2 linked regions of the Homo sapiens genome follow. The protein of the gene in region 1 purifies or fractionates together with the protein of each later gene. This does not show direct contact. Each region holds a gene or a part of one and is shown in the gene's direction. Other genes may lie near its edges.

Region 1 (3,500 bases):
TTGTAATACATGCTAAAATTTTGCAAATTAAAAAGCCCAGTGCCGGTAATATCATGAGGAAATAGACACACTCCTGTATTGATGAGAGTGTGTAAATGAGCTCACTGCTTTTGGGAAGTCATTTGACATTATGTATTTTTCACATGCTGTAAAATGTTCATATGCATTGACACACTATATACCCGACAAGTTGATCTAAAGAAATAATCCAAAATAAAAGAAAAAGTTATATCCAAGATATTCATTGTGTGGTTATTTCTAATAGCCAAAAACTGTAAGCCATTTAAGCATCTCCCAGTGCTGATAATTCCACTTACTTCAGCCAGTAAGATGTCTCACGCCGTTCAGCACCCCCTGAAGAGAGGCTCAGCTGCACACAGTGAGGGTGCTTGCCATCTGGGTAGCACTTTGCAACTTACGAAGCACTCTCAGTAGTTCTTAAGCTTCTGGTGATTAGAGTGAAGAAATTATACCAGAATCTTAGAATGAATAACTAGAAAGGAGCTCAACAATTTGAACTGGTTTAAATAATGATTGCTTTTTGCCTATCTTCTGCTAAGTTCCCCTTTTCTTCTAAGTGTCAGTAATGACGGGATAATATTGTGGTGGCCTTTGACATGACTCTCACTTGTGGTCTATATATTGACAGAGAATATCTGTTAAAGTTCTCATTGATTCTCAGTATTTTTTGAGGATGGGTATTTGACAAAAGCTAAGCAGTCTCTTCCAGTAAAATGCTTGCGCAGATGTACAGTTTCGGGTCGTTCAGGGATAGCCCGAAATCCAAGGTTTATGCACATGGGACAGAGTGGTCTCCATTGACCAAAGCCCCCTTCAAAGTGTTCTTCCCCTAGGCCGGGTGCAGTGGCTCATGCCTGTAATCCCAGCACTTTGAGAGGCCGAGGTGGGTGGAGCACCTGAGGTCGGGAGTTCGAGACCAGCGTGACCAACATGGAGAAACCCCCATCTCTACTAAAAATACAAAATTAGCCAGGTGTGGTGGCACATGCCTCTAATCCCAGCTACTCAGGAGGCTGAGGCAGGGGAATCGCTTGAATTCGGGAGGCAGAGGTTGCGGTGAGCCAAGATCGTGCCATTGCACTCCAGCCTGGGCAACAAGAGCGAAACTCCGTCTGAAAAAAAACAAAAAGTATTCTTCCCCTATTGGCCCGCTCTGCACTCAGATGTCCTGATAAGTGAGCATTTCTAAGCCTCGATTGCTTACTGGAACTATTGTGTGCAAATATGAAAGCTTACATATGCTTAACGTAAAACCATACCTTTGTCACTGGTGAATCACTGGGAGTAAAACTAACACCTATGGAGTAATTGTTCGTTGCTAGGCGCCTGTATGCTCAGATGTCATCACTTTTGGTCTGTGCTCCAGCCCTGTGGGATGGTTGTTATTCGAGGTCAGAAGGGAAGCAGAGACTTGGCTTCAAGAGAGTGAACCTTGAATTCACTGGATGGAGCTTATTTGGTCTGATCAGAGCTTAGAGACTTCACAGTCCCCTATCTGTGTTGACAGGAGCAGAACCCTTCCAGTGTCCCTGTGCAAGCCCAGGCTACCAGTGTTGGGACCCAGCCGCCTGCCGTGTCCGTGGCCAGCTCCCACAACAGCTCCCCCTATCTCAGCAGCCAGCAACAGGCCGCTGTAATGAAGCAGCATCAGTTGCTTTTGGACCAACAGAAACAAAGGGAGCAGCAGCAAAAGCATTTACAGCAACAGCAGTTCCTTCAGAGGCAACAGCACCTTCTCGCGGAACAGGTAAAAAGAAAAGTGGAAGGAAACCACCGCTTCCCACCTTTGCCTGCACCCTGCGTCACTGCTACAGTCACACCTTCTGCTTGTGCGTGTGGATTTGCGCAGACTTGCGTGCCTGTTGTTAGAGTGCTTTGCCTTTTAAAAACATCTTTCCAGGAATGTGGCATTTCTCAGACAGGGGTAGTCTTGTCAGAAGCTGCTTCGTGTCACTTAGTGGAGAGTACTCAAGGCAGACTCGGGGGCTAAAACTGTTTGTGGAAGGGACATTTTCCTATGTTTCAGGTCAGCAGCTTCCAAGCCACTGAGCTCACGTGTCTGTCATTCCACTATGGAGTCAGCTTTGCTGCCACTACAGAGCCTGTTATAAGCCAGAACGTGAAGAGGGAAGTGAAGTCATCCCTGAGGGAAACACAGTTCACTCGCTTGGTTAGCAAGTGTAGTGTGCAGGCACTAAGGGTTACAAGTGAGAGTTCTTTTTTTTTTTTGGAGACAGAGTCTTGCTGTCACCCAGGCTGGACTGCAGTGGTGCGATCTTGGCTCACTGCAGCCTCCACCTCATGGGTTCATGCAATTCTCCTGCCTCAGCCTCCCGAGTAGCTGGGACTACAGGCAAGAACCACCATGCCTGGCTAATTTTTGTGTTTTTAGTAGAGATGGGGTTTCACCACGTTGGCCAGGCTGGTCTTGAGCTCCTGACCTCAAGTGATCCACTCATCTCGGCCTCCCAAAGTGCTGAGATTACAGGCGTGAGCCACCACGCCTGGCCTTAAATTACATCTTTAAGACATAAGAACTGGCTCCAGACAGTGAGGTTCATTGAGGACAATCCCTGCCTCAGTTCTGCCTTTAAGAAAAGCAGCTTTATTGTGATGTAACTCACACAGCATACACTTCACCCACGTAAGTGAACAATTTAGTCATTTTTAGTATATCACAGAGTTGTGCAACCATTACCACAATCCATTTTAGAACATTTTCATTACCCTAAAACAAATCCCATACCCATGAGCAGCCATTCTCCCATCCACCCTGCCTCTCCAGCTCCTGATCTACTTTCTGTCTCTATAATTGTCTGCTCTGGGCTGGGCGCAGTGGCTCACTCCTATAATCCCAGCACTTTGGGAGGCCGAGGTGGGCGGATCACGAGGTCAGGAGATCAAGACCATCCTGGCTAACACAGTGAAACCCCGTCTCTACTAAAAATACAAAAAATTAGCCAAGTGTGGTGACGGGCGCCTGTAGTCCCAGCTACTCGGGAGGCCGAGGCAGGAGAATGGCGTGAACCTGGGAGGGGAGCTTGCAGTGAGCAGAGATCGCGCCACTGCACTCCAGCCTGGGCGACAGAGCAAGACTCCATCTCAAAAAAAAAAAATTGTCTGTTCTGGACATTTTATATTTATGTTATGTCATTTTCAATCATGTGCTAGGTAACAGCAATTGATTCCTCTTGATAATAATATTCCATTGTATGGACATGTTACATTTTATTCATTCGTCTGTTCATGAACATTTGGGTTTCTTGTTTGGGCTGTTAATGAGTATTGCTGCTATGAACATTCATGTACAAGTTTTCATATAGACATCTGTTTTCATTTTTCTTGGGTAGATACCTGGGAGTGGAATTGCTGGATCACATGGTAATTTTTATGTTTAACCTTTGGAGGAACTGTCAGACTGTTTCCCACAGGCTGTCTCATTTTACATTCCCACCAGCGGTGTATGAGGGTGCTGATTT
Region 2 (3,500 bases), on another chromosome or scaffold:
ACTAGGGAGGCCAGTGGGAGGAAGGGGCGTTTCTTGACCTTCAGCAGTTGAGACTCAGCCTCCAGGTAGTTGTAGAAGGCACATGCCGTGTTAGTCCATGGATCAGCATTTATTAGCCACTAGCTATTTTCTCAGCCCTGGCCTGTGTGCTGTGGGGTTTCAGAATCAGATCCTTGTTGGAGCACTCCCTCTCCTCCACACACTGGCTTCAACACCGGATGTGGCTGAGAGCAAGGCAGTGTCAACTGAGGGGTGACCCATGCAGCCCAGTCTGAGTATGGTATGGATTGAGAAAGACAAACATGCAGGTGTGGCTAGGTTGGTTTTGTTTTTTTCATTTTAATTTTTAGTGGAATTTATTTGTATTTTGTGTGTTTTTATTAGTTTACATTCCCCTATTATATTTGATTGCTTGGCTTGTGTGTCATTGTGAAATCAGGATTTGAAGTATAATAATCCTTCTGTCTCTACTAAATATTACAAACAGAGTTCAATAAAACTCTTAGTAGATCTCTTTCTTAATAGATCAAAGACTCTTTTTTCCTTTTTAGCTCCTTTCAATTTTGAGTAATACATATCTAACACAAATAATGCTAATGCTTGTCAAATCCAGGCAGGAATACACCTTTCCTGTCTTTAATGCTTGTAAACAATTGCTAGACATGCAGAGGGAGGCCAAAGTCATTACACAGCTGAAGAGCAACATAACAACATGTCTAGTTCTGTCTGGAGATAAAAGGGGTTGCTTATTTACTAGAGATTTTACTTGATGTAGTATCAGGCTATGCATAATTTATGATGAAAAGCCTTTCTCCTGTTTTATTTTGCTTTTGTCTTCTAAGACCAAATGAATAGTGACTTTGGGCTTATAGATATTAATGAGTATGTTTTACATTCCTGTGAGGTTTAAGGCTCATGATAACCCCTGCGGTTTGTCTTGATTAATGGAACCCTTTAAGTCCTTCACTATCAAAGAGGAGGTTAGAATGACTTGAAGTAGGGAGGATTTCTTTTTTTTTTTTTTCCAGTTCACCTTCCACTTCTAATGCCAGTGCCACCTAGCATGTGGTAGGTGTTCCTACATAATTCTGAAAGGAGTGAGGGAGAGAGGGAGAGAGGAAGGGAGGGAGGAAAGAAGGAAAGAAGGAAGGAAGGAAGGGAGGGAGGGAGGGAGGAAGGGAGGAATAAGTGGACAAAATGGGCTCTTATGGAAAGTATATTACTCCTTTGAATCCTCTGGTGTAGTTTGCACTAGAGTTCGTTACCCAAAGTACACCCCTAGATTTGGAGATGTCTCCTCTAGTGATCTTTTAAGTTATTCTTGCAGGATGTCCCTCTTATCTAGTGTTATACTTAATACATGACTTCATCACCCCCAGTATTCTGTGAATTTCCTTCCAGAAGACACAGCTATGTCTTAGTCATCATTGTCACTGCCACAGTACTTAGTAGAACACTTACATATTTGTGAATGTGGGTGGGAAGAGTCAGGCGCCACTTCCCCATCTCAGCCTCTCTAGGCCCTGCCCTCAAAGGCCAAAGATCTCCTGTGACCGCCCTGAACTCTTGACTCCCATGCTGTTGCAGAGCTCAAGCTTGAGGAAATGAAGCCACAAAAAGCTGCTTGCTTGTTCTTAAAGAGGACAGTTGGAATTCCAAGCCAGGCATTGCTGAAGGTTCTAATAATTCTTGTTAGATCATGAAACAACTAGACAAATTGGAATAGATTGAAATAGTTTTAAACTAACTTGAAGGCATATGAGCTACAGGACCAGCTGCCTTCCCGATGACCCAAGAGATGTTCCTTTGCAAATGTCATGGTCTGTGTTGATGCAACCATGTGAACAGAAACTCCTTCAAGGCAGGATGTTCTGTTTTATTAACTATCTCAGGTACTTAAAATAGAGCCTCAGCTCGTGGTGGCATGCTTCAGTGTTTCATGATGGGATCAGGGAATGCATACTTGTGCTAGTGTTGCCTCTGCCTTATCCCCAGCCTTCTAGTGAAGGAGGATCAGATCCACACATCGAAGGATGTGGTCACTTGTTAGGATATATAATTATTCTTAAGACACATTTATCTTTAAGAGACACACCAATAATTAAGACATTATTGAAGCTACCTTTGGACAACATCTACCAAGTCTCTTTCAGTAGCAACAGATGAGTCACAGAGAGGGAGAATCAATCATAATATACATAATTATTCTCTAATGCTTAAAAAGTAGTAAAACTTCACATCTGTTCAGGAGATAAATGCAAAGTTTGCTTCTTCATCTCAAGGGACACTCCATTTTTAACATCTTTTCTGAGTTTCATTCTAATGTCAGCCAGTGGAGAAATGGTTTTCATGATATGGATACCGTTACTTTGTTCATTTTTAATCTTTTTTTTTTTTCTTTCATAGTGGAAAGGTGAAATCCAGGAATTTTGTCCAAATACCAAAATGCTCTTGGTCGGCTGCAAGTCTGATCTGCGGACAGATGTTAGTACATTAGTAGAGCTCTCCAATCACAGGCAGACGCCAGTGTCCTATGACCAGGTATGTATGTTGCCCATGTGCAAAACTGGATTTTAGAAAGAGTGAAAGAAATGGACTATCACTCATAATAAATAAAATAAAAAGTAGCTGCTTTTCTAAAGGCTCACCCAGTGGTCAGTTGTGAAATTTAAAATGCTGTCATTTATTAGTGTAATTACATGATATTCGGGTACATAAACAGTTGATATGCTAACCTTGTATATTTCTGCACCTCCCAGTAGGTTTAAAGTTAAATAGGTTTAAGAGAGAATGTGGTCAAAATCAGTAATACTCTTTAAGAGGGGTAATCTGATTTTACAGTCGGCAGTACAATAATAAGGCTGTTGCCAGTAAAGTGGAACACTCCATAACACCATCTTTCAGAGAGTCTTCATTTCTGTAAGCATTTCCCCCAAGTATTTAGAAATGAGAATCAGTTTCAAAAGCTCATTCTCATAAAACCTACAACCAGATTCTAAAGAGAGTTCATGTTGAAATACCAAAATTTTATTAAGAATCATCATTTTAAATACCGCAGTCTTCTTAGTCTTCCATTTCTCATTAGCAAAAAATTTGGTATTTTAAATAAGTAGTTTTGGTTAATGTGCACATGCTTATTGTTGTGTACGTTGGTGGTATGGTTCACACTTAGAAATTACATATGTTGTGTTTCATAAAGTAACAGATGTTACAATAGTATTATTCCTTTCCTCAACGCATTTCGGCCCTAAGTAAGACACAATCACATACATTTCAAAATCGATTTTAAATTTCATTCATTGCCCCTGTTTTTGGTACAACCTAGTCACTAGTCTTGAATGCCATTTACCCTCAAGAAAAGAGAAATGAAGTGCACCATGAGGCGCTGGAACAGGTTCTCAAGGCCACATCGCCACGGCCAGAGCTGTGTGGAAAATGCAGAGTTTATGTTCATGACCTTCAGCTAACTTACTTCACTAGTAAGCTTCTCTGCGCCATTC

The links.
Region 2: the proteins of MAML1 (region 1) and RND3 purify together in Homo sapiens (affinity purification with western blotting; one study listed by BioGRID). This does not show direct contact.

What each region holds. Positions count from the first base shown.
Region 1 is NC_000005.10:179,767,322-179,770,821, forward strand, and holds part of MAML1 (mastermind-like protein 1), read left to right. Parts: intron 1-1,528; coding exon 1,529-1,768; intron 1,769-3,500. UniProt on the Homo sapiens protein: Acts as a transcriptional coactivator for NOTCH proteins. Has been shown to amplify NOTCH-induced transcription of HES1. Enhances phosphorylation and proteolytic turnover of the NOTCH intracellular domain in the nucleus through interaction with CDK8.
Region 2 is NC_000002.12:150,470,668-150,474,167, reverse strand, and holds part of RND3 (rho-related GTP-binding protein RhoE precursor), read left to right. Parts: intron 1-2,406; coding exon 2,407-2,541; intron 2,542-3,500. UniProt on the Homo sapiens protein: Binds GTP but lacks intrinsic GTPase activity and is resistant to Rho-specific GTPase-activating proteins.